Regions from separate parts of the Homo sapiens genome. Here regions 1, 2, 3 and 4 are each linked to region 5. The links come from fine-mapping of genetic effects on plasma protein levels. A gene starts in region 5. Each other region holds a variant in brackets. All regions are shown on one strand. Distances are between the middles of the regions. Region 1 overlaps IL5RA (interleukin 5 receptor subunit alpha). Region 2 overlaps CNTN4 (contactin 4). Region 3 overlaps IL5RA (interleukin 5 receptor subunit alpha). Region 4 overlaps IL5RA (interleukin 5 receptor subunit alpha). Region 5 holds the start of IL5RA (interleukin 5 receptor subunit alpha).

Evidence for each region. PIP is the chance, under the fine-mapping model, that this variant and not a neighbour inherited with it causes the effect. The UK Biobank Pharma Proteomics Project read protein levels with antibody pairs (Olink). The fine-mapping took linkage between variants from a reference panel, not from the people measured, so its PIPs are less certain.
Region 1: its variant is fine-mapped to the plasma level of the IL5RA protein (UK Biobank, PIP above 0.99). The variant lies in the coding sequence of IL5RA. If it changes the protein, the assay may bind it differently, which can mimic a change of level.
Region 2: its variant is fine-mapped to the plasma level of the IL5RA protein (UK Biobank, PIP above 0.99).
Region 3: its variant is fine-mapped to the plasma level of the IL5RA protein (UK Biobank, PIP above 0.99).
Region 4: its variant is fine-mapped to the plasma level of the IL5RA protein (UK Biobank, PIP above 0.99).

What each region holds. Positions count from the first base shown.
Region 1 is chr3:3,095,679-3,100,678 of GRCh38, reverse strand. It overlaps IL5RA (interleukin 5 receptor subunit alpha), which reads left to right. Exons shown (of 12, transcript NM_175726.4): 6 at 2,389-2,542; 7 at 2,622-2,809. Among named protein-coding and RNA genes, the nearest start is that of IL5RA, 12 kb to the left of the region's middle. The variant A/G (reference allele first, on the strand shown) is at 2,406.
Region 2 is chr3:3,035,236-3,041,811 of GRCh38, reverse strand. CNTN4 (contactin 4) reads right to left here. Exons shown (of 25, transcript NM_175607.3): 18 at 4,484-4,633; 19 at 2,809-2,879; 20 at 1,541-1,775. It overlaps CNTN4-AS1 (CNTN4 antisense RNA 1), which reads left to right. Exons shown (of 4, transcript NR_046554.1): 3 at 658-767; 4 at 1,430-2,151. Among named protein-coding and RNA genes, the nearest start is that of CNTN4-AS1, 23 kb to the left of the region's middle. RefSeq lists enhancers at 3,156-3,265, 2,500-3,699. The variant C/T (reference allele first, on the strand shown) is at 3,044.
Region 3 is chr3:3,062,394-3,068,885 of GRCh38, reverse strand. It overlaps IL5RA (interleukin 5 receptor subunit alpha), which reads left to right. Exons shown (of 12, transcript NM_175726.4): 12 at 1-2,562. Among named protein-coding and RNA genes, the nearest start is that of CNTN4-AS1, 4.5 kb to the right of the region's middle. The variant A/C (reference allele first, on the strand shown) is at 2,328.
Region 4 is chr3:3,089,221-3,094,220 of GRCh38, reverse strand. It overlaps IL5RA (interleukin 5 receptor subunit alpha), which reads left to right. Exons shown (of 12, transcript NM_175726.4): 9 at 1,859-1,997. Among named protein-coding and RNA genes, the nearest start is that of IL5RA, 19 kb to the left of the region's middle. RefSeq lists a silencer at 4,970-5,000. The variant T/C (reference allele first, on the strand shown) is at 2,763.
Region 5 is chr3:3,110,199-3,116,754 of GRCh38, reverse strand. IL5RA (interleukin 5 receptor subunit alpha) reads left to right here and starts at 6,381. Exons shown (of 12, transcript NM_175726.4): 1 at 6,381-6,556.

The DNA.
Region 1 (5,000 bases), 15 kb after region 5:
CAGCTTACATTTCTACAATTCTAATTATCCTCTGAACACTCTGATACAGGATGACACTAATAAAAATTATTTCTGTTTTGAACCAAGTGGAATTCACTTAAATGATTCTTTGGATGAGAACTATAAGACAAAGAGTTGTCAGGATCTCTAAAGTGTACTTGGGTGTGGACTTTCTGGTCATTTAATGCATGGACAAATATATATTAGGTTGGTGCAAAAGTAATGACCAAAATCACAATTACTTTTACATCAACCTAATATATGCATATATACATGAACTGAATAAGTCAATTTGCTTTGAGGTAGTTCTTCTTTTTGTCTGTGCAAAAGCACAGATATGAAGAAGAAATCCATCTTTAACTTCTCTACAGGTAATAAGAGGCTCTCTCTCATCATCTTCTCCCTCTGCTTCTTGAAAGACACTGGCTGACAGTGATAAAAATGATCTACAGCTCACTTAAGCTACGATCAAAAGACCCCCTTCTATCTCTCAAGGCTCCCACTTGAATGCGGTCCTTCCTGGCCCAGGTGCAAGAGCTTGTTTCCTTCTCTGAGCAACCACCAACAAGGCCAGTGTTTCCCACAGTGTATTTTAAAGACCAACAGTTAATACAGCAACGAGAGGTTGAAATGAAAACAAGCCTTTCTAGTCACATAATTTGAGAAATCCTTAATGAAGCAAACATAAAAAGGTTGCATTTAAAATCTTGGCCGGGTGCGGTCGCTCACGCCTGTAATCCCAGCACTTTGGGAGGCCGAGGCGGGTAGATCACTTGAGGTTAAGTGTTCGAGACCAGCCTGGCCAACATGGTGAAACCCCGTCTCTACTAAATATACAAAAATTAGCTGAGTGTGGTGGCACGTGCCTGTAATCCCAGTTACTCGGGAGGCTGAGGCAGGAGAACTGCTTGAACCCGGGAGGGTGAGGTTGCAGTGAGCTGAGATCATGCCACTGCACTCTAGCCTGGGTGACAGAATGACTCTGTTTCCAAATAATAATAATAATAATAATAATAATAAATAAAATAAAATCTGAAGGTTTTGTTTTTTGAGACAGGGTCTCACTCTGTTGCCCAGGCTGGAGTGTAGTGGTATGATCTTGGTTCATTGCAGCCTCGACCTCCCCAGCTCAAGTGATCCTCCCACCTCAACCTCCCGAGTAGCTGGAACTATAGGCACATGCCGCCACACCTGGCTAATTTTTGTATTTTTTGTAGAGTTGGGGTTTTGCCATGTTGCCCAGTCTTGTTTCAAACTCCTGAGCTCAAACAATCTGCCCGCCTCAGCCTCCCAAAGTGCTGGGACTACAGGTGCATGCCACCACACCTAATTTTTATATTTTTTGCAAAGACGAGGTTTCACCATGTTGCCTGGGCTGGTCTCAAACTCCTGGGCTCAAGAGATATCCACCCGCCTTGGCCTCCCAGAGCACTGGGATTACAGGCATGAGCACCGTGCCTGGCCAATTCAAGGTTTTCTTCAAGTCCTAGTATATTAAAGAGGACTTTAACATGCTAATGTGCATCAAGTCTGCAAAGTCTGCAATCTTGCAGTGTTGTCAAAACTCATTTCTTCTGAGCAGCAACCTATGTAATTCATGAAGAATTTGGATACAACCTAATGAATCACACAATTCTAGGATGGAAAGGGATACGCAAGACCTTCCTGTACCAACCCGCTCCTTTACAGTTGAAAACACAGAGCCCAGAAGAGTGGGGGTCAATGTCTCACAGCTAGTTATTAACAAATGTGGCATTAGAGCACCAAAGTTGCCGGACATCAACCTCAAAATGACAATATATTGTACTTCTCTTGAACTTCCACACATGTATTGCACAAACACCACCCCCAGGCCCCAAACAAAATAGCTGGGAAGCTCTCGAATATCAGAAATGGGGACTTTATAATTCTAATTCCATATCTCCAGTAAGTTGGCCTTTTGTAGTTAGTAGGTTTCTAGAAATATGTGATCATGGCCGGGCATGGTGGCTCATGCCTGTAATTCCAGCACTTTAGGAGGCTGTGGGTGGATCACTTGAGGTCAGGAGTTCAAGACCAGCCTGGCCATCATGGTGAAACGCCAGCTCTACTGAAAATACAAAAATTAGCCAGGTGTGGTGGTACACACCTGTCATCTCAGCTACTTGGGAGGCTGAGGCACGAGAATCGCTCCAAGCCAGGAGGCAGAGGTTGCAGTGAGCCAAGATCGCAACACTGCACTGCAGCCTGGGTGACAGAGTGAGGCTCTGTCTCAAGGGAAAAAAAAATGTGAAGATGATTATTTTTTGGTGATGAATACGACGTTCACATCACTATAGTTCCAAAAGAAGCATGAAATTCAGAGTTTGCCATGGCAATGTTTTGTCCTTTTTACTTTTGACTACCTAGGGTCTCCTGGAACCTCA[A/G]TTGTGAATTTAACTTGCACCACAAACACTACAGAAGACAATTATTCACGTTTAAGGTCATACCAAGTTTCCCTTCACTGCACCTGGCTTGTTGGCACAGATGCCCCTGAGGACACGCAGTATTTTCTCTACTATAGGTTAGTACTGTACCTATTTTTACTTAGGCAAATGGTTGTTTCCTGCAACCTCATAACACTCGTAAATGTTCCAATTTAGGTATGGCTCTTGGACTGAAGAATGCCAAGAATACAGCAAAGACACACTGGGGAGAAATATCGCATGCTGGTTTCCCAGGACTTTTATCCTCAGCAAAGGGCGTGACTGGCTTGCGGTGCTTGTTAACGGCTCCAGCAAGCACTCTGCTATCAGGCCCTTTGATCAGCTGTTTGCCCTTCACGCCATTGGTAAGACCGACTTAACCCAAAGCTGAAATAACTGAATCTCGGAATCTCAGCACTGGAAGGAAGGGTTATAAAGATCACCTAGTTTTACTGCTTCTCTGATGCCAAGTAAGCATCAGACCCATGTTTGAAAACCACTGGGGCAAGGTTCTCCATTCCAACACCACCAGTGAGTTTTGCTGGACAACTCTGTGTTATGGAGGGCTGTGCTGGGCACTGTAGGATATTTAGCGGCATCTCTGGCCTCTACACACTAGATGCCAGTAGTATGCCCCTCTGTCCTTGAGCTGTGACTTTTAAAAAAGTCTCAGACTTTGCCAAATGCCCCTCAAGGGGTAAAATTTCCCCCAGTTGAGAATCACTGCACCAGAAAAAGTGAATTTAGCTGCTTAAAAGAGACCATTTAATCCTTCATGAGTTCTGACAGGTTTTGTGAAATTTCTGCCCCTGGGTCCTGTGATGGACTAGTGCCACCCCAGGTGATTTGAGTCCCTTCCCTATAGAATAGCCTCTCTTAGCTGTTCACAGGCAGCACGTTTCCCATCCAGAAGCCCTTCTTCTCCCAGGCTAACATCTCTCTCTCTCTGAATTTCTCACTGTTCTGGCCCATCTCCTGGATGTTCTGCAGCTCGAATATCTCTCAGTGTGCAATTCTCAGCTCTAAAAATTCTATTCGTGGTTTTGTCTGCTCAGTTCTCAATAGAGAAGACACTCTCCCTCATCCCAGATAGTTCTATTAGTGAAACTCATCAGGCGCTCTCACATGGCATTCTTAGTTATGGAGATTCCAGATTTCAATGGTGGGTGGTTATTATGGGCTGTGGGGCCAGACTGCCTGGATTTGGATCCTGGCTCCACCACTGGCTGAGTGACCTTGGACAAGCTGATCATTCCTTTGTGCCTAATCTTCTTATCTGAAACAATGGAGAGGAATCAATACTTCCTGTGCAGTCTTCGTGAGAATTGTGTTACTAATGATAAAGCACTTAGAACAGTGCCTGGCATAAAGGTTTAATAAATACACTACAATATTATTTAGAAGGTATGATTTGGCTGTGACATATCTATATCCAATGGAATATAACTTTGTGTAAAGAATCATAGCCCTTACTAAAGAGGTTATGCAATTCTCTCCAGTAATATATTTCTTAGGTGAACTAAAAATGTCACTTTCATGAAAATAGGCAATAAAAGATGCCGAGGAAGACCTAGGAAACAATGATATTAATATGAAAATGGATATGATCTAGTACAGACCACAGGAATTCATTTTTCTTTTATGATTTTCATTTTATTGAGGCTGATTCCTAGGATTACTAAAATAAATAAGTACTTTCTTGGTTAAGAATTTTCTTCATAGGGTATAGGAGGCTCTGAAGCCAGTGGATCCCACTCCTAGCTTTTCCCTATTAATTGTGAGATCTAAGTCATATTACCTAAGACAAGGACACTCATTAAGAATTCATTTCCCCTCACCTCACCGGACCATAAGACAATCAAGTGAGATCTCAAGGGAAAGGACATTAGAGTCCTAAGTAAAGACAAATTTAGCCCAATCCACTCTTCTTCTTCTTCTTCTTCTTTTTTTTTTTTTGAGACAGATTTCTTGCTCTGTCACCCAGGTTGGAGTGCAGTGGCGCGATCTCGGCTCACTGCAAGCTCCGCCTGCTGGGTTCACGCCATTCTCCTGCCTCAGCCTCCTGAGTAGCTGGGACTACAGGCGCCCACCACCACGCTCAGCTAATTTTTTGTATTTTTAGTAGAGAGGGGGTTTCACCACGTTAGCCAGGATGGTTTCGATCTCCTGACCTCGTGATCCACCCGCCTCGGCCTCCCAAAGTGCTGGGATTACAGGCGTGAGCCCCCACGCCCTGCCCCAATCCATTCTTTTTGATGCAAAAGAAAACTGAAGCTTCCTGCTCCAGCCCCCAAACAAACAAAAACCAAAAGACGCAGTAAACAAAATGAAATTAAAATTAAAAACTGAATCTCAGAAAGGGGAAGTGATTTGTTCAGGGCCACATACCTACTGGGAAGAGGCAAGGCTTGGTGGAAGGTCCAGGGAAATGTTCTCTCAGTGGTCAGGTTTATTCTGGGCCTGGTACAACTTGAGTAGTAAAGGGGGATGGTGGGTGAGTCTTGCAATGAGCTGAGGGGGGGAAGTAATTCAAGCATTCAACTCTATTTGGAGTAG
Region 2 (6,576 bases), 75 kb after region 5:
TAATGTTTTTTTGTAAAGACTTGGATCTTGCTATGTTGCCCAGGTTGGTCTCAAACTCCTAGGCTCATGCTATCCTCCCACATCCCCCTCCCAAAGTGCTGGGATTACAGGCATGAGCCACTGTGCTTGCCCACTAAATTTTTTTTAAGGAAGACTATTGAAAGAAAAATGTGAACATATACAAATGGTACACAGCTATGGCAGAAATCTGGCAAAAATAACTGAAATTTGGGAAACAGTCAGTCTAGCCTCTCCTTTGCAGCCAAAGATGCTGAGGCCCACAGAGTATACCTGAGTTATCCAAGATCATACAGATTGCAGTGTGAACCTGAAGTGTCATCCAGCTCTCTTGAATCTTAGTCAAGTCAGCTGACTGTCCTTTTCCCCTTTTCCTCTCATTTTCATAATCCAGAGACATGAACTATTATCTAAGAGAAGTTGAAGGCTATGAAAAGGGCTGAAGCTTGTTTGAATAATTGTAAATCCTTTGGCAATGGTTGGAACATGAAATATGCAGGGAAAGGCATCAGCAGCTGAGGCAGACAGAGAGGCAGCAGCTAGATCATGGAGGGCTACTGAGTCTAAGGGGATGATCTCTCTGATTGGGAATAAGTTATTGCATCTTCACTGACTCTAAATCAATGATTCACCTTTCAGATGTTTTAACATGGTCCCATTCTGAGCATCATCTTTAAAACAACATAGACGAACTCCAAAGGTAACGAAGACTGTGTGAGAGGCATCCCGAGAGCAGGGATAGCATGGAGGTGATAATAATGTGTGAGAAATGTTAAACATAATGATGGTGTGGATGACAGTGAGCGCAATCACACTGCTTCATGACTTACTCTTTTCTTTAATAAGTGAGATTTTTTTTTTTTTTTGAGATGGAGTTTTGCTCTTGTTGCCCAGGCTGGAGTGCAGTGGTGCGATCTCGGCTCACCGCAACCTCCGCCTCCTGGGTTCAAGTGATTCTCCTGTCTCAGCCTCCTGAGTAGCTGGGATTACAGGGATGTGCCACTACAACTGGCTAATTTTATATTTTTAGTAGAGATGGGTTTTCTCCATATTGGTCAGGCTGGTCCCGAACTCCCAACCTCAGGTGATCCACCCGCCTTGGCCTCCCAAAAGTGTTGGGATTACAGGTGTGAGCCACAAGTACCATATGCTTTATGAAAATACAAGTGGTAAGAAAATGCAAATTATATTTTGATATTCACTTAAAGGCAAAAATAAAATTCTTTTGAAAGTAATGATAACATATAGATAGATATGAAGATCTTATATGGTATTTGCAATTCTGGTCCTTAGCAATGGAATCAATAATGGACAGCCAAGTGTTTTCATATACAGAGCAGTCGCTATCTTTTCAAGAGATTCATGGTGGACAGCGAACCAAATTGTTTACATTATCCTCTTCTCAAATCAGGTATGCCTTCAAGATACATGTACCATGCGAAATTGATTGTACGTGCTACAATCCACATTTTAGAATTGAAGAAATATTAACAGTCAATGATCTAGGCAGCATAAACGATACCTTCTTCTGCAGAATACACCACCGTGGTGGGACTGAAAGGGCCTTCTCCTTTGTTGTTGAAGACACCTACTTTAACCTCAAAGGGAGAGAAGGGGTGCACGCTCTCATTCCTGAACACGTATCTAGAGGCATCAGCTGAGGCCAGCACTGTCAGCATCCAGATCATTTTACCGTAGGGCCGGAAGGCCACCACATAACCAAAGCCTCGACCATTCTGTAATTCCTCAGGGACCGTCTGGGAAAGAAGGAAGGTGGTCTTCAGAAATCACAGTAGTTTCACTCAAATGCAAAAATCGTTTTTGTTTCCCTTGTAACATTCTTGTCTACATCCTTCTCCACCCATCTTATTTGGCGTTTTGTTAACAGTCTTTTAAATTTAGGGCTTGCAGTCAGTCTATCTTAAACAGTTATGATGTACTGGACAGGGTTGAAAACGTAATGAGGATCTGCAGTCCAGAGCTTGCTCTTTGATGGGGCAGACCCAGCTCTGAAATGGTTGGAAATGATTGTAAAAAAAAAAACACTGGACATCGGTCTCCTGAAAAACCACATTTCCAACACGTATCCTCTAATACTAATCTTCTTCCATTGCCAAATAGACAAAAGATCTCACTGAAGGAAGAAAAACCATCTTGGCTGAAGATCCTCCCTCTCAGAGGGAAGAGTTCAGCTGGAGGGATGAGTGATTTCTTTCACTGCTGTGCTTTGGGTAAATGAGAGATTTTAATTTCTGGGGCTGTTTAGAATCTTTCAAAAACATGAAGAACCCTTTCTAAAGCTCCCACCTCTTCTCTCAAAGCCAATTTTTAATAAATTGGTGACTAACTTTCCTCCAGGTTGTTTTAAAAAATACCTCCTAAAAGAGGGCCCCTTCTAGAAGCAAAGCCAATTGCCAGGAAATTGTGCTGGTGCACTGAATCTATTGCTGGCAGACGTTTTAAATCAATTGGCCATGCAGCAATTCAGGAAGAAAAGAAAAACTAGTTTTCTCTGAAACAGCCTTCTTTATTTTTTTTTGTAACGTGTGTTGTCTTCCCTTCATAATTGTTTTTACTGTGATGGATTGAATTAAAACTTGCCTCAACAATGGATGGGCAAGTGCCGTCCTTCCTGCTAGCCATTAGCTACGTGAGAGGGAGTGTCTGAACCCAAATGAATTTTCACTGTTAAAAACAGAGGAGGAAACTTCCCAGCTATGTCTAACATGGAGGAAAATAATAAAATAGCTTCGATGCGTGTACGTTCCTTTTATTCTGTGATTCATTTACCTCCCAGGTTATAACCAGTTCAGATTTGCTGCCTCCGCCACCACTGACATTCGCTGGTGTGACTTCGGGGACTGCACAAGGAGACAAAAAACAAGTTATGTCAGGCGGCAAAGGCGAATGAGGGCCAGGAAGGTTGCCTGGCAGAGGTGACTCACTTTCAGTGAGTACTCTGAGGCACGCCCCTTTGTCTCTGGAGATCAGCAACAGCATTGTCAAGGGGCCCACGGCGACCGCT[C/T]GAGGAAGTGAAATGTACCAAGGAGACTGCTATTAATTACCTGTTTCCCATTCAACAAGGCACACGTGTTATCTGACACGTCTGACCAATTGTTCAGCTCCATCCCTAGAGGCCGAGGGGTTCCCGAAGGGAGGAAAGGACTGAAGTCTGGTCCTAATGTTTGGTTATGCGTTTATGAGCCACGTGGAGATACACAAAGGGAAGAGTACAAGCTCTGCCCAGGCAGAGCTTACAAGCTGGTTGGAGTGGAGGAGCGCCTGCACCAGTTAGAGCAAGGTCGACAACCAGGGTAAGGAACAGTCAGCATGGAGAAGCGGGGGGCGTTCCGGAGTAGCGCCCTGCTCAGAGCTGGGGTGGGCGAATGGCTTCTGGGAGGAAGAGTTTTGATCTGAGTGTTGAAGGAAGTGGCAGACAGAAGTTGACCCCCGGCTCACTGAGCTTAACCTCTTTGATCACCAGTTTTCTCTATAAAAGAGAGGAAATTATGCGAGCTTCCACCTCAGGATTGCTGAGGGGAATTAATTCAATTATGGTTTTGGAAGGGGAAAAGAAAGCAGGGGACTAGCTATATTGTCATCACGTAACTGAAAGGCTCCGGGCCACATTTAAAAAGGTCTCACTGGGGTATGTGGCTGGTGACTGGGTATGTCTCCTTGGTTAAAGCCAATCAAATAGATCTAGATGAGTTTTTGCTTTTCTGAGAGTAGGGTCAGAACTCCTATTTGTGTAGGGACCTTATTATTCCTTCAACACACTGGCCTCTCTACAGGCGGGAACTCTATAAAAGACGGCACATGTAGGCCTCTTGCTTTACACCAGCTAAGTAAAAGTACGGCTGACCCTGATGAACTTGTTCTTCTCTCCCCGTGCTCATTCAAGCTGCATATGCAGAGGGCCATACTGAATTGCTGACTGGTCTTGTTCGAATGAGCACGATGTTCTGAATCTTCGTTTCTGGGAATGGTTTATACCCTAAGAAAGATAATCTAAGTGAACATTTCTGAAGAAATTATTTTTTATTTCTATTCTAAACAGGATTACCCCATGGTGGCTGTGTCCAGAGCAGTCACAAATTATTCTTTGCCATTAGTTACTTATGTGAGATAATTTTATTTGAAATGTGGGATTTTTTTTTGAAATTCTGTTAGAATCTTGGTGACAAATGAACCAATGAAGAAAGGGCTGGCTTTTGAGAGGACTAAGCACCGTGTGTCTCTTGCTGTACAAGTGGACCTAATGAAGAAAACAACTCTTGATTGAAACCCGTTGCGTGTTCAGCTGGGCTTCTCCTGGCCTGATTTCTATCATTATAAACATTTAAAGGGAAGGGTGAGCTAACACAGAGCCGCATGAGCGCTGAAGAGCAGCAAGAATTCAAACGCTTTTCCTAAGGAACAGCAGCTGGCAGAACAGATGATCTGAATCTCGGGTGCTACTCACGAGCTTCTTCTGTTCTCCGTTTCTCTGAGGGGCGGCTGGGCTCCCCAATCCCAATCACGTTGGCTGCAACTGTGCGGAATTCATATTCAACCCAAGGGTTCAAACCCACCACGGTCGCTGTGAATGTCTTCCCATCAATGAGTTCTGGGACTGAAAGACAACAAAAGGTGGGGGCTGTTTCATAGGTTCTCAGAAAACAAATGCAGAGATTACGTTAGGAAGATAGGAACATCCATCCATCCTCATCATTATTGTATTCAGGGCAGTGTAGGTGTTCTGATATTAGCTGCATCAACAGTTGTTTCAGTGAGGTAATCTCAGAACTATCTCTGTATGTTAAACTAACACACTCTAATCAGATACCAGCAGATGACATCATAAAAGACACACAGTCCACAAGACCCCAAACTACCTGACTCAATCATTACTATCACCCCTTCACATGTGTTTCCGCATTTATTGTATAGTGCCAGACACACTATTTCAACTATCCTCTGAGAAAGGTAAAAGTATTATATTCTTTTTTTCTTTTCTTTTTTTTTTTCTTTTTTTGAGACAGGGTCTCTCTCTCTCTCTCTCTGATGCCCAGGGTAGAGTGCAGTGGCACAATCTCGGCTCACTGCAACCTCCACCTCCCAGACTCATGCAATTCTTGTGCCTCAGCCTCCTGAGTAGCAGGGACTACAGGTGCATGCCACTATGCCTGTCTATTTTTTTTTTGTATTTTTAGTAGAGACGGGATTTCGCCTCATTTCCCAGACTGCTCTCAAACTCCTGGGCTCAAGCGATCCACCCGCCTTGGCCTATCAAAGTGCTGGGATGACAGTTGTGAGCCACTGCGCCTGGCCTATATTCATTCTTAAACAATTCTTATTGTGCCCATTTAACAGAAGAGGAAAATGAAGATGTATAGAGATCAGCTGATTAGCAGTCAGGTCTAGAATTCATCTCCTAACTTCTATATTTTTCTCATATTTCCTTCTTAAAGCACACCTGTGACTCAGTGATTACAGAAGGAAACACAGAAACCCATTTCTAAGGATTAGTAAACTAAAGTGAAAAAAACAAATGGGTTAAAATCAACAAGATTTATATGAATTGCTCAACACTGGGCATATTCTCCTTCAAAACATCAAGGCCATATAGCCTACTTTTGCTGTCTAGAGGAGTGTGTATCTTTGTTTGTAATAACTACTTGTTCATCCAATTTATCCTTAAATGAAATCTAAATAAGAAAATGAGTCAATTTGGAGGTACTGACAGAGTGGGGTTGGTATAAGAATTCTTTTACATGCAAAGAGAAATAACTGTGAAACTTTTAAAAAATAGGAAGTGCTGTATACATGTAATAAAGGGAAACAGGATGGAAGTGTTGCTGCTAACAATGTTTTTTTTTTTTTTAAGAATTTGTAAAATTGGTTAAAAAGAAATCTCATGTCTTTTTATCCCCAAATTTATCCATCTAAAAAAATGGGGCTGGACACAGTGGCTCACGCCTGAAATCCCAGCAATTTGGGAGGCTGATGGAGAATTGCTTGAGCGCAGGAGTTTGAGACCAGCCTAAGCAACATAGCAAGACCTGTCTCTACAAAAAATTTTAGAGAATTAGCTGGGTGTGGGGGCCTGCGCCTGTGGTCTCAGCTACTCAACAGGCTGAGGTGGGAAGATTGCTTGAGCCCAGGAGGTCGAGGCTGCAGTGTGCTGTGATTGTACCACTGCACTCCAGCCTGGGTGACAGAGTGAGACCCTGTCTCAAAAAACACAGCAGCAAGTGAAGAGGCTCCCTATAATCCTCTGTTATTGGTTTTTGAGAGCACTGTGTAAACTTTATGAAGTCTGTGACTATTAAGTGACTATAGTCAGGCAGAATCCGCTGCTTTCCAAAGTGAACCACAGTGCTACACAGATGATTTTAGGTAATACAGATTGATGCATTTTATTTTTATAACTAATATATTTTTAATGTGTGTTACGGAAAATACATATACAACCAGCACAACAGACTTTTTTTTTTTTTTTTTTTGAGACGGAGTCTCACTGTCACCCAGGCTGGAGTTCAGTGGTGTGATCTTGGCTCACTGCAACCTCTACCT
Region 3 (6,492 bases), 48 kb after region 5:
AGCCTGCACTGTCTTATAGTAATCTGTATTACTGTCCCATTTTATAGTTGCAGTTACTAAGGTTCAGAGAAGTTGATAGGAAATGGCATAGTGAGGAGTTGAATACCAGGCTCAGGTAAAAGTGACCCCAGAAATGTGCAGAGGAGTGTCAGGGAAAGCTGAGGCCTGCTTAGGGGTGTGGCTGAGAAGGCAACACCCATGGAGGTGCTGCAATAGTTGGCAAAATGTTTAAAATGTTTGGTCACTCAAATGATTCATAATCTCAAACCTGTTTTTGTTTTTTTTTTTTTTTTTTTTTGTGGGGTGGGTGGTGGAGACAGTCTTGTTCTGTCTCCCAGGCTAGAGTGTAGTGATGTGATCTTAGCTCACTACAACCTCCCTGTCCTGGGCTCAAGCCATCCTCCTCCCTCACCCTCCCAAGTAGCTGGGACTACAGGTGCATAACACCATTCCCAGCTCTTTTTTGTATTTTTTTTTGTAAAGCTGGGGTTTTGCCATGCTGTCTAGGTTCATCTCGAACTCCTGGGCTCAAGCGATACACCGGCCTCAGCCTTCCAAAGTACTGGGATTACAGGCATGAACCACCATTCCTGGCCAGGAAACTGTATTTGTAATGAACACCTTAGGTCAGAATCAGAGGCGCCTGGAGGGCTCCTTAAGACACAGAGGAGTGGGCTCCATTCTTAGAGTCTCTAACTGAATAGGTCTGGGTGAGGTCTGAAAAGCTGCGTTTCTAACAAGTTCTCAGGTGATGCTCATGCTGCTGGTCTCCAGGACACACTCGGAGAACTGCTGCTCCAGGAGAGTCTTATGAATACCAAAATTTGAAAATCAGCCGCTGAAGGAAGATGTGACAGAAAAGTCCTGTCCCCAGAAAACTGTCCTTTTGGGGCGGCTTGGAGCACCCTGTCTGATCTCTTTCAAACCACAACCCAGACAGTTGGCATTGTGGAAACTGCCTCTGCTTAGGAGGCAGGAACAGAAGCAGGGAGCTCCCCCTCCACAAATGTGGCCAGCTCTTCAGTGCTTGGTGTGGTGCCCACTTCAGACTCCTCCCTCCACTCAGCAGCCATAGATCACCTGGGCTCTGTGGAGCTCCTTGCCACACTTCCCTGAGCTGGTACCGTTATCTGGCCCTTGGTATATGTGTTTCAGGAGCAACACAAAGTAGCCCATTGGCCTCCTTGGTGGATTGGGAACTCCTTCCTCCCTTCTTGCCCTGTGCAACTCATAGTCATTCTTTGGGAACCCGTAACCATCATCACTTCCTCCATGAAGCCTTCAAAAGCAGAGTTGGTTGATCCCGCCTCTGGATTCTCATTCTGGGCCTCATACCCGTGTTAGAGCTACTGCATTGTAGAATATACCATTAACAGCTGGGAGGCCTCCCCTCTAGACTGCGGCTTCCAGGAGGATGGAGCTTGTGTGAAATACGTCTTTTTATCTGCAGTGTCTAGGACAGTATCTGACTTAAGAAAATATAAATGTTTCTTAAACCCTCTGTCAGCCCTGATACGGCACCTTGTATATAGGTTAGACTGAACAGTATTTGGCAGAGATCCTCAAGGCCTACAATAATGACAGGGGGAGGAAGCTGGGTATCTAATGAGAATGCGGTTAGTTAGAAGCAACCAGGAGACACATGTGCCTAACAACTGGGCTACTGCAACCTGGATGTTTTTGCTGCCAAAGTGTCTAAATGGTTATGTATAAATTGCTGTGTAAGAGGCATTTCAGAAGTGGCTCACTGTGAGTGGTCTATACTGTTCTCACCAGCCTTGTCATAGCAAGTCAAAGAGTTTGAAATTCACTTAACAGTAAACACCATCAGCAGCAGGTTGATGTAAGGTAAAGTCATGATATTGGCTCCCATCTCTTGCCATCTCTCACTAGGACGAGTGTAGAGAGTCACTTTTCTCCTAGAGCCTCCACAGCCACGGGATCAGAACAAACATGCTTTTCCAAGATATCCGTTCCAATAGGGATTTTTAGCCCAATTTCTTTCCTTGGCATTTGGAATTCACTGCGTGCAGCATGGGGGAGTGCTGGGGAGACTGGAGGGTGAAGGTCACATTTGCCAACAGCCCGACCACCTGAGCCTCATTGAAATGCCTCAGACCTCAAGCTATTCATGCAGGCTGGGGAAGAATCCACGTGGGCAAAGAACATCCTGATTAAAAATCCAAACGTTTTCATGGTGAGACTTCTATGTGTCAGGACCATCTGCTGGTGGAATTAAGAAGCCTGAGGTGCTAATTTGTTAAAGAAAAAGTAGATATCTGGAAGTGAGAACAGAGAACTGAAAACAATCTCTGATGGCACAAGTA[A/C]AGGTGAAAAACCTAATTAGAATAGGACTTGGTGCTAGCCTAAGGACTGTAGCTATTCCTGCTTCTACATCCTTCAAATTGAGTACCAGGGTGCAAATTTTTTCAAAACCATTCCTTCCTTTGGAATTTTGTATTGTACTATAAGACAATCATGCTTATCTCCTGTTTTGTAGGTAATAGATGTGAATATAAATATGTTTCAGAATGAGAAATATTAAACATAAATGACAGTGAATTGTCTAAGTCTGCAATTAAAGAGGGGTGGGTACCTTTCTCATTTTTCCCCTAAATATTCCCCTTCTCTGTCCCCACCATTGTCTTCCTCCATCTCTCAGCTAGGACTATTACAGTAGCCTCTGAACTGAACTCATGGCCTCCAGTATTTCCTCCCTTTGAAGGATCAATGTAAAAGGCACATCTGCCTATATAACTCCCCATCACCTTCAAGTTAAAGCTCCTTTTAAGGCAAAGTCCACTATGACTCAGCTCCTTACTAGCTCTCCAGGCACATACCCAAATACTCCTACCTCCATTCTCACCAATGTGCTGATGATTTCCCTGTAGCTCCATGCTACTGCATCACTCCATGCCTCTGCCGAAACTTTCTCTGGTGGAAAAAGCCTTTTCAACCTCTTTTCATTTTGTTGACATTTTGATTTATCTTCTAAGTCTCGGCTCTTTGCCACCTGAAAATCTTTGCTCAACTTCCAGTTTGAATTAAGTGTCCCTCTATGTTCCTTTTGTTTAATTCTATCAGTGATTGGACTTTCATTTATTTATTTATTTTGAGACAGAGTCTGACTCTGTCGCCCAGGCTGGAGTGCGGTGGCGAGATCTCGGTTCACTGCAATCGCCGCCTCCGGGTCTCAAGCCATTCTCCTGCCTCAGCCTCCCCAGTAGCTGGGCCTACAGGCACGTGCCACCACAGCCAGCTAATTTTTATATTTTTAGCAGAGACGGGTTTTCACCATGTTGGCCAGGATGGTCTCGATCTCCTGACCTCGTGATCCACCCGCCTCGGCCTCCCAAAGTGCTGGGATGACAGGCGTGAGCCACCGCACCTGGCCTGGACTCCTCACCAATGCTCTGTCTCGTTTCCAGTGCAAACACTCTGAGGCCAAGAGCAGTGTCTGACTTATCTTTGTGTCCATAAGCCCCAAGGAGGAACTGACTGCTGGTTGAGTAACCAGACGAAGGAAAAGGAAGTGAGCTTATTAAACATTTAAAAGAACGGAAAACAATATAGATTCTAAAGAACTATGTTCTAATGGTAGGTTCATTTATTAAAGCTGTGTGGTTATAGCAGAAGTTAAATCGTCACTGGAGCTTAAATTAATGAAGTAGTAAAAACTCACAGTGGGTGTGATGCTGGTCTCAGAAACGCTGCCCTCCACCTCCGCGGCCGGCATCACCCACCATTTGGCTCTCAGTAGACATCTGCGTTGTTGGTTGTCAGGAGCAACACAAAGCCGCCCATATGGCCCATGTGCATGATTTTAAAGTTCTAGCGGACTCTTTTCAACTTGAAGGTGTTTTATTAGGTTTGTTTCATTTATTAAAATTAAAAGCAAAGATTTGTCCCTGCCAAGTAATAAACTGGAAGAACACAGAAACCTGAGGGGAAAATTGCAAGAACGAAATCAGCAATAAAGTACTGGTGTCGTAGTTTAAAGGTCGGCAAGCTGCTGCTGCCTTTTTTTTTTTTTTTTTAAGACAGGGTCTCCTGTCTCACCCAGGCTGGAAAGGCTGGAGTGCAGTGCTGTGATCACCGTTCACTCCAGCCTCGACCTCCCGGGCTCAAATGATCCTCCCACCTCAGCCTCTCGCGTAGCTGGGACCACATGGGTGTGCCACCATGCCCAGCTAATTTATAAAATTTTTTTGTAGACACAGGGTCTCCCATGTTGCCCAGGCTGGTCTTGAACTACTGGGCTCAAGTGATCATCCAGCCCTTGGCCTCCCAAAGTGTTGGAATTACAGGCACGAGCCAGCAAACTCTTCTTAAAGGGCTAGATAGTAAATATTTTCAGCTTTGAGGACCATATGGTCTTTGTGGCAGCCACTCAGTTCTTCCGTGATAGCACAGAGTGGCCGTAGGCAATCTATAAATCAGCATGGCTATGTTGCAATAAATCTTGATTTACAAAAAAAGCGGGCAATGAGCTAGATTTTCCCAGAGGGCCAATATTGACACATGGCTTAATGGATTCAAAATATTTATGAATGTGTTTTTCTTTTTTTTAAGAAAAGCAACCAATTTGGGAAAATAATCATGTTTAATCAAATGAAAATATTCTATCCTGGGGGATCAATGGTAAAAAAAATTGTGTTTGACTGAACTTAACCTCATTATAAGTAGGTTTTGCAAGAAACACAGGTCCAGCATTGTGTTCATACCTTTATCTGTCACACTATTCACACCATCCTTCAATAAGTGTATTTCTGTCTCCTTCAGTGAACCATGAGGGAAGCCTTAACCCTATTTATCTCAGTTTCTCCAGTGCCCAGCAAGTGCTTGACACATAGTATGCACTCAATATCTTATTTGTTAACCACTAAATTCAAGAGGAACAACTGGGCCAATTCTAACTGCCAGTTATTTGGTCTCGGATATTTGGTCCCAACACTGCAGTTGATAAACGATGCGTCCACTACATAGTTTTCCAACGAGCTGTGCTGTGGCCTATGTTCCTGGCAACAAACCCATTTTTTTAAGCTTTCAGAATATTTCTGGAATCCCTTCCACCTGCTTTAACACCTTCTTGCCACATAATGTGGGCCTTTGCTGGGGAAAGATTCCCTTGTCTTAAAACTCTTTTCTGGGCTGGGTGCGGTGCCTCACGCCTGTCATCTCAGCACTTTGAGAAGCCAAGGTGGGTGGATCACCTGAGATCAGGGGTTCGAGACCAGCCTGACCAACATGGAGAAACCCGTCTCTACTAAAAATACAAAATTAGCCAGGCGTGGCGGCGCATGCTTGTAATCCCAGCTACTCAGGACGCTGAGGCAGGAGAATCACTTGAACCCGGGAGGCGGAGGTTGCAGTGAGCCGAGATTGCGCCATTGCACTCTATCCTGGGCAACAAGAGCAAAATTCCGTCTCAAAAAACAAACAAAAAAAAAACAAAACCTCTTTTCTGCCAGCTCTAAGAGGAACTTCACCCACCAGCCCTGTCTCTCTGGACACACACACATCCCATCCTCACACCATCCAAGGAAAAGTGGGAAGGAGAGTTCAGCAAACGAAACAGAACTCAAAACAGCAAACTTCATGTCTCGCCCTCAGAGCCATTGACCTTCAGAGATCTGACAACACATTCGCAAGACCCTGAAATTTTGAATTACAAATTAATTACTTCAATGAGAGTAATGAAGACCTCCTGGTGTCAGGTTGCCAGATTTAGCAAATAAAAATAAGAGGCTCAGTTAAAGTTGAATTTCAAATAAATATCACATGGGGCATACTTATACTAAGGAAGCATAATTTTTTTTTTATCTGAAATCTAAGTTTAATAGCTCCTCTCCTATTTTATTGGGTAATCCTGATCTTGAAGGGTAGCCGGAGTTTAAAGAAACAGCTCTAAGACACCTGAAGTCAAGGACAACGAACACGCAAAAAACAACATTTGCAGTCAAGGAAAGAGAAGCAGAGAAGCTGAGCCACTTTAGAGCAGACTGAAGCTCATGACTGCCTTTCCTTCTTGTTGCTATATGGGAACCGTATCTATCTGTCTATTTATCTATCTACCTACCTTATTGTTTATGTATCATCTATTTACAGATAGAGACATCTAATGTTTTGGAGTAGGGCCCTAAACCCAAGCCACCAGCATTTCAATTCCTGGTCTCTCTGATCAACTGTGTGATCAGGGACAAATGTGAACCTGTCAACCTCAATCCTCTGTGTATAAAATAGGAATAATAAATGGTAACTAAATCGGTAGGTTGATTTGCACTGAGTCTGGCACATATTATAAGCATAATCACTGTTTACTATTATTATTATCATTGCATTTCTCTGTATTGTGACAAAATACTGTTACTGGTGCCTTGGCTTCCTCACACACATCTGAATGCCACATCATTCTTCTATGCCCAGAATAGTGCCTGGTACAGAGAGGGCTGCCAGTAGTCCCTTGCTGAATAACTAAAACCCTCTCCAGGC
Region 4 (5,000 bases), 22 kb after region 5:
GAGTGTTGAACATTGGTGACACAACAATGTGAAACTATTTAATATCACAAAGCTGTACACTTAAAAAGGATTAAGATGGTAAATTTCATTATATGTATTTTACAATTAAAAAAACTCATTAGCACTAATAGACAAAAATTTCAAGGGGAAAGGAACTGAGAAGAAAGCCAATCAACATTTCTTGAGCATCAATTATGTGTCAAGCTTTATTATGTGTTTATTCCATCCTCACATAATTCTATGATGTAATTACCATTCCCATTTTATAGGAAAGTGAGGCAAAAGAGATGAAGTAACTCTCCCACAGTCACAAAGCTAGGAAAAAAAATAGGATTCCAACTTATGTCTTACAGAGAGTAGACAAAGCCAATTCAATTAGATTCAACAAATATTTACAAATTGGCTTCTTTGTGAGAAATAAGACTGTTTCTGCCATGGAGTGACCCAATCTTGTGACATACTTGCCCAGCCTTGGGGTTGCCCTCCCACAGGAAAAGCCAGTACAGCTAGAGATGGGGGTGTGGGCACAGAGCCTGCTCTGCAGAGAGGAATTGAACGGAATCTGTAAGGATGAAGAGAAACTAGTCTGGTGAGAAAACATGAGAAGGACTTTCTTAGCCAGAGCTTCCCAAAATACTTACACTGAAGGACTGTGTGTGCACGTGTGTGTGCGTGTGTTTTTATAATGTCTAATCTACCATAGATTGGTGCTTTTGTCAAATACAATAAAAATGATCTGCTAGAAAAAATTAAATATAGCCAAAGACATGTAAAGTGTCAGTTCACTGATCATGTGTTTGGATATCATGGCAATGTCAAATTGCTATCAAAACTTCCAAATTGCAGTCATAATTTTATCTGTATTTAGCCCATCACAAGCCAGTAATAAATAGTTCCTGACTTGCACCAGCCTAGGAAAAGGAGTAACTTTATGCTTGAGAGAGTATGGTTCTTTCAGTCAAGTGGCAAGTAATTCAGTCTGCCTGGATGCCTGGACATAAGACCAATGCTGAAATCATGACTCTGTATCTGACATTGTGATTTCTCCCAGAGTGGCTCTATAAGATTTTGCTAAAAAATAAAGAAGTGGCTTCTTTTTTAAAAACCATGACTCTGGGCAATGGATGCCACTGAAGAGTTTTACACAATAGAGAAATATGTCTACATTTGCAGAGTAAAAGAAGATTTTTGGTAGCAGCATGAAAACTGGATGTGAGTGGGGAGGGGCGACATGGACATATGATATCAGTTAGCGGCTACTGCAAAGGTCCAAGCAAAAGATAATAAGAGCTAAAATAGGCAATGGTCACAGGGCTGGAGTAAAAAAGGGAGAAACACCTCCGGGGGTATTCAAGATACAGGTGTCAGGAGCACATCTCTGGTACAGGGGACTAGCTGGATGGTGGCGACCATGATCAGTAGAAGGAAAAAGAAGAAGGGCTCATTCATGAGAAAATAGCTTCATTTCAACACTAGACAATCTAGCGTTCATGTGACATTATTTAGTAATGTGACTATAGATTATGGAGAGACAAGGTGAGGGAATAATGCATTCTAGCATAGGCCACTCCAGTCTTTCAGTCTGGAAACATCAGCTGGGCCTGGATAGGAACACCTGGATCTTGACCGTTGATCATTTCGTATATTTTGGTTACAAGATAGCGTTCCACTGAAGGGTGACTGCCAACACATCCACACTAACGCACCTAGCATAAACGAATTAATGTGTGCCCTGTTGATTTTAAAGGACTTGCTGAACAGTGAGTCACATGACCTATATAGGACCTCCCATTCTGATAATCGGCAGAACTAAATTAGGTGTCTAGAGATTCTTCTAATGCTATCTTTCCCCACTTAGATAGAAAAATTGATGACCAATGCATTCATCTCAATAATTGATGATCTTTCTAAGTACGATGTTCAAGTGAGAGCAGCAGTGAGCTCCATGTGCAGAGAGGCAGGGCTCTGGAGTGAGTGGAGCCAACCTATTTATGTGGGTAAGTAGCTTATGTTTATTTTACATTGGCAGCCTTCCTTGTGATCAAAAAAGGTAATCCCAGAAACGTACCCGTTCACTCGTGGGTCTTAAAATGGTTTCATATCTCTATTGTGACTAATTTTCTCTCGGTCTACTGCCTTTTCAATCAGGAATAGATTTGCCATGAAGCCAGTGAAGTTTTTAAGTGTCTAGGCTTCTCATTAGCGCCAACTCTCCTAGACCTGGTGCCTGTTTTTTTTCCAAGTTTTGTTTCTACTTCTATCCATTTTTTAAATTAAACTTTTTATTTTGAAATAATTATCACACTCACAAGCTGTGGGAAGAAATAATAGAGATCCTGTGTCTCTTTCATCCAGTTTTCCTCAAGGGTAACATCTTACAAAACTATAGTACAATAGTGGAATAGAATATTGGTGTTGGTAATCCAGATCTTACTGATTTCATCAATTTTATATGTCCTCATTTGTTTGTTTGTTTTTTTGTTTCTTTTTGGACAGAGTCTTGCTCTGTCGCCCTGGCTGGAGTGCAGTGGCGCCATCTCAGCTTACTGCAACCTCTGCCTCCTGGGTTCGAGCGATTCTCCTGTCTCAGCCTCCCGTGTAGCTGGGACTGCAGGCACATGCCACCACGCCTGGCTAATTTTTGTATTTTTAGTAGAGACAGGGTTTCACCACGTTGGTCAGGCTGGTCTCGAACTCCTGACTTCAGGTGATCCACCGGCCTCAGCCTCCCAAAGTGCTGGGATTACAGGCATGAGCCGCTG[T/C]GCCGAGCCATATGTCCTCATTTGTATGTGTCTGTTTGGTTCTATGCAATTTTAGCACATGTTTAAGTTCATGTACCCATCACCACAGTCAAGATACAGAGCAGTTGCATCATCACTTGTTACACTTTTATAAATACACCCATCTCTCTCTCCTCTCTTCTATCCCTGAACTCTGGCAACGAGTAGTCTGTTCTCCATCTCTTCGATTTTCCCATACCTAATTTTGACTTTATACTTTTTTAAAAAAAGAAGATTCCAAAACTGTGTAATCTATAGGGTCCCACAAAATCTGGATCTGTCCCTGAGCCTTCAGCCTAGCAGATATAGAGTATAAAGAGGTCCATGCATCACCGGGACTCCTGTGTTAGCTCTGCAACTGTTTATGTTACGATCAAATGGACTAGTTTGCTTGGCAAGTAAGATGGGCATCGTCTCTGTCAGTGAGATCCATGAAGGATAATAATATACCCAATGGCAGCTATGGATGAAGGGGCACATTTCCAGTCTTACCCTGACACAGATGTCAATTCCACACCCAGGACATGTGGTATTGCACCTTGAAGATAGAAAATTCATACCCTGTGTTGGCCGGGCGTGGTGGCTCACTCCTGTAATCCCAGCACTTTGGGAGGCCGAGATGGGCAGATCACGAGGTCAGGAGATCGAGACCATCCTCGGTAACATGGTGAAACCCTGTCTCTACTAAAAAATACAACAACAAAAAATTAGCCGGGCGTGGTGGCGGGCGCCTGTAGTCCCAGCTACTCGGGAGGCTGAGGCAGGAGAATGGCGTGAACCCGGGAGGCGGAGCTTGCAGTGAGCCGAGATCGCACCACTGCACTCCAGCCCGGGCAATAGAGTGAGACTCCATCTCAAAAAAAAAAAAAAGAAAGAAAAGAAAAAAAAAAAAAAGAAAATTCAAACCCTGTGTTTGCTATTATCCAGGTGTTTCCGGCAAGTCAACATAGGCATTGTATGAGAGAAGGAAACAGTTAAAAAGCAACTAGTGCGTCTCATGTGTATGATAAACCATTCAGCCTGGGGAGGCACACACACGTCGTTAACTGTTGCACTAGGTCTATAAGAGCATGGGATGGTGGGAAGAAGACTGGAGCCTTACATAGAAAGCCCAGGTTTAACATTCAGCCTTTACAAGGATTGATTGTGTATCCCCAGACAAATAATTTCTCTCTGTTTCCTAGGGTTCTCAAGATAAAGGAGATAACATCCAGCTTTCCTGCCCCACACCGTATCTGAAATAAAAACAACAGCAGGGATAGCAGATTACATGTGTTTTTTAATTTTTATTTATTTTGCCAAGCACTATGCTAAATACATAATCTTAGTCCTATCAAAAAACTTGTTTGGAAAGTTTAGGTAATTGGCTTAACTCTGTTCTGCATGGCCAACAAGTGGCAGGGATGGGGCTCTAACCCCAGATTAACTGACTCTAGCACTTGATCTCTGGACACTCTGGCATGGTGGGACAGGATTCTGCAAGCTTTAAAGTGCTGGGTAGATTAAAGTCTTATTTAAGAGATCTTGGGGATGGGTGCGGTGGCTCACACCAGTAATCCCAGCACTTTGGGAGGCCGAGGTGGGCAGATCAGGAGATCGACACCATCCTGGCTAACATGGTGAAACTTGTCTCTACTAAAAATACAAAAAATTAGCTGGGCGTGGTGGTGCGCGCCTGTAGTCCCAGCTACTCGGGAGGCAGGAGAATCACTTGAACCCAGGAGGCAGAGGTTGCAGTGAGCCAAGATTGCGCCACTGTACTCCAGCCTGGGCGACATCTCAAAAAAAAAAAAAGACATCTTGGTAGCCAACCTTTGTGATTATGGGTGATCAAGCATGTGGATGCCATCTCTCATGAATCCTATGAGGTATTCATCAACCATTGGAAGAGTATACATAGGAGAGATTTAGTTCAGGCACATGCCAAAATGTTCTACTATTTAATTCATTCGCTTAAGCTATGGGGTAGGTCTTCAGGAAAGTCTCGGGCAGTGACCCATCAGCCCATGTGAAAATGACTCCGATCTGACACACAGCAGGTAGATTTCCACTGAAGACTGGGAAAGATAAGGAAAGGCCTAATAAATGGAGAACTGTTCTGAATCTGCCAGGGGGCTGGTCGTGCTAAGTTACCGAGTTCCCAAGGGAGAATAGCGTCCCCTAAAGTTGTGCAACACACAACCAGCTCAGCCTTACAGGGGTAGCCCTCACATCACTCAG
Region 5 (6,556 bases):
TGGAATTAAGGTTTTGACATTCTAGGCAATGTGAATTTGGAGAGCATCACAAAGAGTCTGTGCTATGTAAATTCTCTAAGCCTCAGTATACTCATCTGTAAAAGAGGTTTATAGAGCTGTGATGTGATCGTGTGTATAAGGCAACTGACAGTCCCAGGAACATGGTAGCTTCTCTTTTGACTGAAATGGGACATTAATCTACATTAACAACATAAGTTTAGCCCAGGTGTGGTGGCTCATGCCTGTAATCCCAGCACTTTGGGAGGCCGAGGTGGGCAGACCACCTGAGGTCAGGAGTTCGAGAGCAGCCTTGCCAACATGGCGAAACCCCATCTGTACTAAAAAATACAAAAAAAAAAAATAGCCGGGCGTAGTGGCGCACACCTGTAGTCCTGGCTACTCAGGAGGCTGAGGCAGGAGAATAGCTTGAACTCAGAAGGCAGAAGTTGCAGTGAGCCTAGATCGTACCACTGCACTCCAGCCTGGGTGACAGAAAGAGACTCCATCTCAAAATAATAATAATAATAATAAGAAGAAGAAGTTTAATTGTGTAGTTTTTGCTATTGTTTTTACACATTCTGGTTGATTTCCTGTATCTGGTTTTCAGAGCAAAGAACTGGTCTCTGACTAAAGAACTGAAAAAAGGACTAAAGAACTGAAAAAAGCTTAAGCTACTGAAATTCTTTACTGAATAAAGATATGCTTTTAATTTTAGCTACATGGGATAACTCAACAGATTGATTTTACACTAGAATTTTTCTAACGATTACCCAGAATTCTGTTTCAATCCTTTGAGGGTATCTAATCCTGCTAGGGTATTTTTTAATGACAGTTTTATTGAGATATAACTTACATATCATAAAATTCACCTATTCAAAGCGTACAAGTCAATGGTTGTAATATATTCACAGAGTTGGAAACCATCAATACAATCAATTTAAAATATTTGTGTTATCCCAGAAGAAAATCTCATACCCATTAGCAGTAACTTCTTATTTTTCCCAAACTCCCTCCATCCCCCGGCAGCCCTAGGCAACCATGAATCTATTTTCTATCTCTATAGATTTGCTTATCCTGGACATTTCATATAAGTGGAATCATGCAGTGTGTGATCTTTTGTGACTGACTTCTTTTACTTAGCTTCATGTGTTCAAGGTTCATCCATGTTGTAGTATCAGTGCTTCTTTTGATGGCTGAATAATATTTCACGGCATGGATATACCACATATTCTTTATCCATTCATCAGTTGCTGGACATTTGGGCTGTTTTCACTCTTTGGCCATTATAACTAATTCTTCTGTGAATATTCACATATAAATTTTTATGTAGACACATGATTTTAACTCTCTTGGGTGGGTATTTGCCTAGGAATGCAATTACTCAGTCGTATGGGAACTCCACATTTAACCTTTTGACGAACTGCCAGGCTGTTTTCCAAATTGGCCACCTCACTTTACCTCCCCAGCAACAGTATGTGAGGGTTCCAGTGTTTCCACATCTTCATCAACAGTTGTTATTGTCCTTTTCATTTCAGCCATTGGAGTGGGTGTGAAGAGGTATCTCAGTGTGGTTTTCATTTGCATTTCCAATAGCTAATGATATGGAGCAGATGTTCCTAGGCACCTTTGCTGTTGGTACATCTTCTCTGGAGATATGTCTGTTCAAATTCTTTATCCCATGCTTAAACTGGGTTATTTTACTTTTTTCTTTCTATCTTTCTTTCGTTTTTTGAGAAAGGTCTTGCTCTGTCACCCAGACTGGAGTACAGTGGCACGAACACGACTCACCAGAGCCTCAAACTCCTGGGCTCAAGCTATCCTCCCACCTCAACCTCCCAAAGTGCTGGTATTACAGGCTAAAGTGGGTTATTTTTCTTTTTATTGTTTGGTTTTAAGAGTTTTTGACATATTCTAAATAAAAGTTCCTTGTCAGATATGTCTTTGCAAATATTTTTCCCATGCTGTGGCTTGTCTTTTCACTTCCTTGTATTTTATTTTATTTTATTTCAGACAGAGTCTTGCTCTGTTGACCAGGCTGGAGTGCAGTGGCACGATCTCAGCTCACTGCAACCTTCGCCTCCCGAGTTCAAGCCATTCTCCTGTCTCAGCCTTTGAGTAGCTGGGATTACAGGCACCTGCCACCACACCTGGCTAATTTTTGTGTTTTTTAGTAGAGACAGGGTTTCACCATGCTGGTCAGGCTGGTCTTAAACTCCTGACCTCAGGTGATCTGCCTACCTTGGCTTCCCAAAGTGCTGGGATTAGAGACGTGAGCCACTGCATCCGGTCTTTTTTCACTTTCTTCATGGTATCCTTTGAAGCACAAAAGCTTTTAATTTTGGTGAAATCCAGTTTATCTATTTTTTTCTTTTGTTGTGTCTGCTTTTGTATCTTATTGAAGAAACCATTGGGTAGGTGCGGCGGCTCATGCCTGTAATCCCAGCTCTTTGGGAGGCCAAGGTGGGTGGATCACCTGAGATCAGGAGTTCGAGACCAGCCTGGCCAACATGGCAAAACCCCATCTCTAGTAAAAATATAAAACTTAGCCGGGTGTGGTGGCACACGCCTGTAATCCCAACTTCTCGGGAGGCTGAGGCAGGAGAATCGCATGAATCCAGGAGGCAGGGGAGTTGGCAGTGAGCTGAGATCATACCACTGCACTCCAGCCTAGGCGACAGAGTAAGATTCTGTCTCAAAAAAAAAAAAAAAAAAAAAGAAAGAAACAAAATGAAGGTCATGAAGATTTATGCCTATGTTTTCTTCTAAGAATTTTATAGTTTTGCCTCTTACTTTTAGGTCTTTGATCCCATTGGAATTCATTTTTGTCTATGCTGCGAGGCATTCTTTTGCATGTGGATATGCACCACTTATTGAAAGGCTGATCTTTTCCCCGCTGAATTGTCTTGACACTCTTGTCAAAAATCAATTGACCCTAAATGCGAGAGTTTATTTTTGACTCTCAATTCTATTAAATTGATCTGTATGTCTCTAATATTTTTTAAAATAACTTTTTCTGCCTGCATTTGTACAGAATAAAACGTTTGTAAATATAGAAACACAGAATAAAAGTAAGAGAAACACTAACCCTGCCGTGGTAGAATGAACTGTTGGTCCCATTTCTTCACTCCCCACTAGGAGTTGTCCATGTCCACATCCTTATCATGGCCTTATCATGGTGGAATGTACTTTGGGCTTCGTCCATTTGACTCCGGGCTTGGCCATGCAATTTGCTCAGCCTCTTGAGATGTCAGGGAATGTGACATGAGCAGATGCTTGATGCGTGCTTGTGCAGTTGGTCCTGCTCTCTTGCACTTTTGCTGTCACCATAAAAAGATTATGCCCTGGGTAGCCACTGGTTCCAAATGAATGGCAGATACTTGGAACAAATCTGAACTCACTTTGTGATCTGGATCCCAGCCCAAGATTAAGCAGACCCCAGTCAAAACTCAGACACATGGGCTACAAATACATGCCTATCACAGTTTACCACTGAGGGTTCTGTGGTTGCTTGTTCTGTAGCAATAGCTGACTAATACACCTACCACTTAGAGATAACTATTCCTGTTAGTCTGATCTTCTGACCAAAAATAAGACTGTAAAAAAAAATTACATGTGTGTATACCCTCCTGTTGTTTTTACTTAACATTTTTTCATAATACCCTATGTTATTAAAAGTTCTTGATTGGCTCATACCTGTAATCCCAGCACTTTGGGAGGCCAAGGTGGGAGGATCACAAGCCAGGAGTTTGAGACCACCCTGGCCAACATGGTGAAACCCTCTCCCTACTAAAAATACAAAAATTATCTGGCATGGTGGCACATGCCTGCAATCCCAGCTACTCCGGGGGCTAAGGCACGAGAATCACTTGAACCCAGGAGGCAGAGACTGCAGTGAGCCGAGATCCTGCCACTGCACTCCAGCCTGGGTGACAGGGCACCACCCTGTCTCAAAAGAAAAAAAAAAGTTATTGATAAACATTCCTTTTGACATCCACATCACATATTTCAACCTTGAGCAGTTACATATTTCTCTTCACCATTCCTATAGTACTTTTACTATTTTACTATTGTAAAGGTACAATGAATTTTGCTCTCTTTTGTATAAATCTTGATCTACATTTTTCCATTATTTCCATGGAATCAAGTTCTAGAAGTTGATACCTTTAATAAGCTCCTTTAACCAAAGTTCATGGTAGAGCCACTGAACCATGATTTTCGTTTTATTACTATTCATATTTCTATTTGGCTAAACTCACATTGTTTTGCTTAAAGGATGCAGACACATTTAATTTCACTTTTTAAAAAAACGACTTTTGTGAATTCTTCCAGCATGTTCTATCATACTGTCTTTGGACGTTTACACTTTATTATAAAGAATTAAATTATTGCCATAAAAAACCAAACAGGCCTCGCTCAGTGGCTCACGTCTGTAATCCCAGCACTTTGGGAGGCCGAGGTGGGTGGATCACCTGTCAGGAGTTCAAGACCAGACTGACCAGCGTGGTGAAACCCCATCTCTACTAAAAATACAAAAAAATTAGCTGGGTGTGGTGGCGGGGGCCTGTAATCCCAGCTACTCAGGAGGCTGAGGCAGGAGAATCGGTTGAACCCGGGAGGTGGAGGTTGTGGTGAGCTGAGATCGCGCCATTGCACTCCAGCCTAGGCAACAAGACTGAAATTCCATCTCAAAACAAACAAACAACCCCCCCGCAACCCCCCGCCAGAAAAAAAAAAAGTCCCTGCCTCTCATTTTTTCGTTTGTGCTTATACAGAAACATAGAGACAGTGTTTCTGTATGAGCATGTGTTTGCTTTGTTTGTTTGTTTGTTTTTATTGGCGTAGTTAATTAAAGATCATATACCCAGGAAGGTGGTATGGAAGGAGCAGCCAGATCTAATTTTCTTTATACCCTTCACCGCGCCTAGCATAGTGCATAGGTGCATTCAATGAATATTTGAGTAAATGAATGTAAGAAATATACAGACCATTGGCTGAGTGTGGTGGCTCACACCTGTAATCCCAGAACTTTAAGAGGCCAAGGCGGGTGCATCACTTGAGGTCAGGAATTTGAGACAAGCCTGGCCAACATGGTGAAACCCCATCTCTACCAAAAATACAAAAAATTAGCCAGGCGTGGTGGCGGGTGCCTGTAATCCCAACTACTCGGGAGGCTGAGGCAAGAGAATCGCTTGAACCTGGGAGGCAGAGGTTGCAGTGAGCAGAGATTGCGCCACTGCACTCCAGCCTGGGCGACAGAGTGAGACTTCATCTCAAAAAATATACATATATATATACGGAGAGAGGCCATTAAAGCAGGCTTTTAAGCCAGAAATTACTGTCTTCCCAATGATTAATAAGTATTTTTAAGGTTTCATTAGTGACAAATATGTTACATGTATAAACAGATGGGCAGGACTTAAAAGAGTAGGCCAGATAGTTGATACTATATCTAAACTTTTCTGGGTGCCTCTTAGCAAATAAATGGATCTCTCTCTGTTCCTTGTTTTACTTCCCCTTTCCCCGAGGAAAATCACATTTTTCAGGTCTGACAACAATTTTCAACCTGATAACAATTGCTCCGGTTTCATTTTGGCAACTGCTAAAATGGTCACCTTGGGAACCCCAGGCACACACGCTGACTGTACTTGCACAGCTTCTACACTGAGCCTTTTGGAAATTGCCTCCAGGAAGCCTGTCTCTCATCTCACAAACAGAACCACTGATCCAACCTGGGCCACCATCTTTCTGCATCTGCTCTGTCTGAGACTCTCCCAGTCAGCTCCTAAGGAGACAGGGAATCCTGCATCACTCATCGCTTAGGCTAGACTGAAGGTCTCCTTCCAAAGGCAACTACTTACTACTCTCTGCCGTGGGTCATACAATAAGCACTACTCTTATCTATTCACACGCTAAGCTACTTTTTTAAAGCCAGCTTTGCTAGCTAGCCACCTCGAAATTCCCCAGAAGGAATCAAACAGAAATGGAACAAAGGACAGGAAAAGCCAAGGAGGTTTGCTGAAATTGAAGCATTCTGAAGACAGCTGGGTGGTAAAATGGATGTGACGTGAGGAAGGTGGTCTTGGGTGCACCCACAGACCAACACTGCCATTGTTACAATTTGTGTAGGATGATCTCAGGTGACAGACAGCAGCAATTTATCACACCCAGAAACGCATCCCCCACACATATTTACTTGAGGGTACCAGACCTGCTCACAAAGCAGAGAAGAGCTAAGGCGGTTCTCTAAGGGCAGAGAATTGCTGCTATTGCCTAGTGAGTGGGGAGAGGGTACTCCTCAGGCCTTACTTCCTATCAAATCATGTGTCAGTGTTGCCTAGGAGACAGAGGCACAGTAACTACTGTAGCCAAACAAGGCACATAAACAAAACAGAAATGCAACGCTTTAGAGTACCCACGGAAAACTTGTTTACCTTGTCACCATGAGTAAAAGTTAATTCCCACTCCTGAAGAGAGCAAACCAACTCTGAAAGAGAGTGAAAATGCAGACAAGACAGTTATCAGATAATGGCTATCTGGACGAGAGATTCTTTCGTTT